Linked DNA regions of Homo sapiens: region 2 is linked to region 1. The links come from fine-mapping of genetic effects on gene expression. Tissue or cell type: whole blood. Region 1 holds a variant in brackets; the other region holds the start of a gene. All regions are shown on one strand. Distances are between the middles of the regions.

Evidence for each region. PIP is the estimated chance that this variant, and not a neighbour inherited with it, causes the effect.
Region 2: it holds the start of MMP25-AS1, and the variant in region 1 is fine-mapped to the expression of MMP25-AS1 in whole blood (TOPMed, PIP above 0.99).

Annotation. Positions count from the first base shown.
Region 1 is chr16:3,014,283-3,017,032 of GRCh38, reverse strand. CLDN9 (claudin 9) reads right to left here. Exons shown (of 1, transcript NM_020982.4): 1 at 2,528-2,750. CLDN6 (claudin 6) reads left to right here. Exons shown (of 2, transcript NM_021195.5): 2 at 991-2,321. The coding sequence starts at 1,012. The coding sequence ends at 1,674. Among named protein-coding and RNA genes, the nearest start is that of CLDN6, 2.5 kb to the left of the region's middle. RefSeq lists enhancers at 1-42, 1,262-1,826 and a silencer at 2,683-2,750. The variant A/G (reference allele first, on the strand shown) is at 1,053.
Region 2 is chr16:3,058,210-3,060,709 of GRCh38, reverse strand. MMP25-AS1 (MMP25 antisense RNA 1) reads left to right here and starts at 1,340. Exons shown (of 5, transcript NR_123723.1): 1 at 1,340-1,714; 2 at 2,008-2,170. MMP25 (matrix metallopeptidase 25) reads right to left here. Exons shown (of 10, transcript NM_022468.5): 8 at 2,377-2,500; 9 at 2,041-2,298; 10 at 1-1,883. The coding sequence ends at 1,612. LOC124900372 (sialidase-like) reads left to right here and starts at 1,340. Exons shown (of 3, transcript XM_047435000.1): 1 at 1,340-1,714. RefSeq lists an enhancer at 197-1,102 and silencers at 1,141-1,610, 2,071-2,120, 2,261-2,390, 2,421-2,470.

The sequences.
Region 1 (2,750 bases):
CGGGCAGATCACCTGAGGTCAGGAGTTCGAGACCCGCCTGGCCAACTTGATGAAACCCTGTTTCTACTAAAAATACAAAAATTAAGACCAGGTGTGGTGGCTCATGCCTGTAATCCCAGCACTCTGGGAGGCTGAGGCGGGAGGATCACGAAGTCAGGAGATCGAGACCATCCTGGCTAACACAGTGAAACCCCGTCTCTACTAAAAATACAAAAAAATTAGCCGGGCGTGGTGGTGAGCGCCTGTAGTCCCAGCTACTCGGGAGGCTGAGGCAGGAGAATGGCGTGAACCGGGGAGGCAGAACTTGCAGTGAGCCGAGATCCCGCCACTGCACTCCAGGCTGGGCGACAGAGCGAGACTCCGTCTTAAAAAAAAAAAAAAAAAATTAGCCGGGCGTGGTGGTGTGCACCTGTAATCCCAGCTACTTGGGAGGCTGAGGCAGGAGAATCGCTTGAACCTGGGAGGCAGAGGTTGCAGTGAGTGGAGATGGCACCACTGCACTCTAGCCTGGGCCACAGAGCGAGACTCCTCGTCTCAAACAAACAAACAAAACAAATGGACAAGTTTTGAGCCTTAAACTCAGGGCTAGAATTGAACCATTCTACACGGAAACTGCTTGGAAATCGCACCGTCCTGTCATCCTGCTTTTTGCCGCCTTGCAGCCTGATCACTGGCTCTGGCCTTGGACTGTCATTGTATAGGTTTCATCCTGTTATCTTTCATTTGCATTCAGGATAGCCAGGGCAGGGCTGCTTGCACAGTCACTGTCATCAGCCAGTGCCTGTCACATAACTAGAAAGAATAATAAATGCTAAAGCATTAAGTGTCCATTTTGCCCACGAGAAGTGAGGCTCAGGGAGCATGTCTTGACTGAGTTCCAGGATGTGATGACCACTTTCCAGGGTGCATGCCCCTAGAGTCCTGTCCACATGTGGCCTGAGGTCTGGGCCTGCCAGGCCTCACCTTGTTGTGCTTCTGTCCCAAACACAGTGCAGCTCCTTCAACCTCGCCATGGCCTCTGCCGGAATGCAGATCCTGGGAGTCGTCCTGAC[A/G]CTGCTGGGCTGGGTGAATGGCCTGGTCTCCTGTGCCCTGCCCATGTGGAAGGTGACCGCTTTCATCGGCAACAGCATCGTGGTGGCCCAGGTGGTGTGGGAGGGCCTGTGGATGTCCTGCGTGGTGCAGAGCACCGGCCAGATGCAGTGCAAGGTGTACGACTCACTGCTGGCGCTGCCACAGGACCTGCAGGCTGCACGTGCCCTCTGTGTCATCGCCCTCCTTGTGGCCCTGTTCGGCTTGCTGGTCTACCTTGCTGGGGCCAAGTGTACCACCTGTGTGGAGGAGAAGGATTCCAAGGCCCGCCTGGTGCTCACCTCTGGGATTGTCTTTGTCATCTCAGGGGTCCTGACGCTAATCCCCGTGTGCTGGACGGCGCATGCCATCATCCGGGACTTCTATAACCCCCTGGTGGCTGAGGCCCAAAAGCGGGAGCTGGGGGCCTCCCTCTACTTGGGCTGGGCGGCCTCAGGCCTTTTGTTGCTGGGTGGGGGGTTGCTGTGCTGCACTTGCCCCTCGGGGGGGTCCCAGGGCCCCAGCCATTACATGGCCCGCTACTCAACATCTGCCCCTGCCATCTCTCGGGGGCCCTCTGAGTACCCTACCAAGAATTACGTCTGACGTGGAGGGGAATGGGGGCTCCGCTGGCGCTAGAGCCATCCAGAAGTGGCAGTGCCCAACAGCTTTGGGATGGGTTCGTACCTTTTGTTTCTGCCTCCTGCTATTTTTCTTTTGACTGAGGATATTTAAAATTCATTTGAAAACTGAGCCAAGGTGTTGACTCAGACTCTCACTTAGGCTCTGCTGTTTCTCACCCTTGGATGATGGAGCCAAAGAGGGGATGCTTTGAGATTCTGGATCTTGACATGCCCATCTTAGAAGCCAGTCAAGCTATGGAACTAATGCGGAGGCTGCTTGCTGTGCTGGCTTTGCAACAAGACAGACTGTCCCCAAGAGTTCCTGCTGCTGCTGGGGGCTGGGCTTCCCTAGATGTCACTGGACAGCTGCCCCCCATCCTACTCAGGTCTCTGGAGCTCCTCTCTTCACCCCTGGAAAAACAAATGATCTGTTAACAAAGGACTGCCCACCTCCGGAACTTCTGACCTCTGTTTCCTCCGTCCTGATAAGACGTCCACCCCCCAGGGCCAGGTCCCAGCTATGTAGACCCCCGCCCCCACCTCCAACACTGCACCCTTCTGCCCTGCCCCCCTCGTCTCACCCCCTTTACACTCACATTTTTATCAAATAAAGCATGTTTTGTTAGTGCATTTGGTGTTGCAGCGGGTTACTGAGTGCCCACCCTGGCTAGGGGAAGAGATGGGCATAAGTGAGTCACGATCCCCTCTCCCCGTGGCTTGAGTGAGCATACCCACCAGGCAGAACCTAGAGCCAGACCTTGGCCTGACAGCCACCAAGGGAGGCCACCTGGCTGTGCCTGCCCAGCCCCAGCGGCGGCGCACAGATTAGAGGGAGCCCAGTTACAAATGCTCTTTATTTCCAACTCGAGGGTGGGGATGTTGGGGAGAGGGAGGTGATGGGCAGGCCCTCCCTGACAACTCCAGGGTTGGGAGGGCATGGTCTGCTCCCTGGTTTTGGAGCCAACGAGCTGCTGCTGTTTTGGTGAGGCCAGGGTTCCTGGGGCAGGGGAGGGCTCAGAAGAGAAGGAAGGCCAGCCAGTGTCCTGGGCAACGGAAGGA
Region 2 (2,500 bases), 44 kb before region 1:
TTATTGTCCTGAGTGGGATGAATAAGTTTCTAATATACAAATTTCCCCCTCCTCATACATGGAAAAGAAACTGACAGAGGCCCAAATCGTTTCCTGGCAGCCCAGAATTCCCAGGTAACTGACCAAAGTCTCCTGCCTTCTGTCCTCATGCTGATCTGTTTGTATGAGCAACTGGGGCAACCCCTCGCATGGTTGCTGGGACAGCCGCCCACAGCCTCAGCTCCAGGAAGCACTAGGGGGTCACTGAGGCTGGACAGCAACTTAGGAAGTGGCCCCTAAGTGACTCTACCCATGGGGTTCAGGCCATCGGTGTGGCCTGAACATATTGGTCCTGGGGTGGAGGAACACTGCAGAGCCACAGAAATGCCACGAAACAGCCAGCTACTGCCCCCCACAATCCCCGCGACTAGTTAAAATGCAGATTCCTGACCCCACCCTGAGTGAGGATTCAGGGTGAGTGTGGGATCTGCAAACTTAAATTTCCCAGTGATTCTGATGTGGGATAGTCTAGAAGAATAGTTCCAGAGGCAATCATTTAGATCCTAAAACTGTGGGGAGTGGGGACAGGGTGAACGAGGTGCCCCCAGGTTCCACCCACCCCTCACTCTAGAGCTAAGGCCTCCCAGGAGGGAGTGCTGAGGAGGCAATGACCAGGCCTGAGCCAGGGTTCGGTCCCTGTCTTTCCACCAGCGTTGAGTTGATGGGAGTCAAGCTGTTCTCTCCAGGGTGCAAGCAGGGAAGGGGTTCTTGGGGATAGAAGGGTTCCCCATTGAATGGAAGGCAGTTCTGGGCCCAGGGAGGTGCCCAAGTTGGGTGGCCTGGGGAGGAGGAGGTGGGTGGCGGGGGAGCAACGGAAAAGGTTAACAGCCTGGAGAGCAAGGGTCGTCCCTCCAGCCACTGATTCCACCACCCAGGACGTGGCGCATGGGTCCTCAGGGGTGATATCTGGGCTGGTTCCGGGTCTGGGTCCCAGGTCCCCACCAGTGTGGCAGTGACTGTAGGGGGGCCTTGTGGGAGCAGAACGGGGTGAGAAACTGCGGGTGGGAGAGGGGCAAGGCACAGCTTCGCAGTCAGGCCTGTCCTCTAACGACCCAGGAATGCCAGACGCAGTGGCCAGGCGGGGCGGGGCTGCGGAGAGTCCCAGGACTGCGCTCCGAGAAAAGCTGGCTCTTCCTGGAAAAGGAAGGTCCTGCGGGGCCAGCGCGCGACCGGGGCTGCCGTCCCTCCGGGTGAGGCCGCGGGCCCGCCCCTTGTCCTCCCCGCCCCTCCCCGGGCTCGGGAGGCGGGGTCCGACCGCCCCCTGGCGGCAGCCGGGAGGGAACGACGGGGGCGACGACCGACGCATGGTCCCAGCGCGCGTGCGCCCCTGAAGGCGGGTTCCGGTGGCAGCGCCGGGGTCTCAGACCCTGAGGAGACTGAGCCCAGCGCCAGGCGACCGGTCCCCGCCGCCGCCGCCCCTGCGCGGGAGATCCCCCCTGCTTAGTCCGCGCCCGAGCCCCCGTCCGTGGGAACAGACAAGGGGCCTCCGCAGCGCCTCACAACCCCCGACCAGGTCCAGCGGCGGGGGACTCGGCCGTGGAGGGCGCTGTTCGGTCTGGATGGCTCCCCCCATCAGCGGGAGGCTACACCCCCCACCAGCAGGGGCAAGAGGAGCAGCGGGATGGGAGCAGGCCAACGTCCTGCGGCCTGGTTGAGCTCGCACTGACAATCGCAGGTTTCGGACACGGGGGTCGCTTTGGGGGGCCTGGGGGCGCGGGGACCAGAGCTCGGGGCGGGGCAGTCCAGCCAGTTGGGCCCCATGGGCTGGGGGGCGTCCGGCTCGGTCTTGATGCTGTTCTTGGGGAAGCGCCAGTAGTGGGCGCCCTTGAAGAAGTAGGTGTCACCTGGAGGAGCAGAGCTTGAGTCCCGGTCCCTCCCCGCCCCGCCGCTCCCTGATGCCCAAGGACCCCCATCCCCGCAGGGTGGCCTCCATGTCCCCATTCCCCACATCCCTCTCCCCACCCCCAGGCCCAGTAACCCGCAGGTCACCGCGCTCCCCACCTGCGTTGCTGACGGTGACATCGTCAGGGGAGGGGGGCGCGCCTTCCCAGAGGCTCAGGTCGCGAGGGTAGCCGGGGTCCGGGCGCGCCGCCGCCTCGTCGTAGCGCCAGTACTGCCGGCCGCGGACCAGGTAGGTCTTCCCGTTCTGTGGCCACGAGAACACGGCGTCCACCTCCTCTCCCGGGGGCAGCCCCAGCTCCGTGAGCGGCCGCGCCCCGCCCTCCAGCTGCCGGTCCTGGAACACCCAGAACTGGGGCCCTGCAGGGTGGAGGCCGGGAGGTCAGGGGTGGGCTCCCCGCGCCGGCCCCAGCGCGCCCCGCCGCCGGCCCCACTCACCGCTAAAGAGGAGGATTCGGCCGTCTCGGTGCCGAGCATAGGCGGCCTGCACCACCCTCACCTGGGCGGGCAGCCCCTCCCAGAAGCGGTGCAGCCGTGCGGGTCGCGGGGACACCAGCTGTCC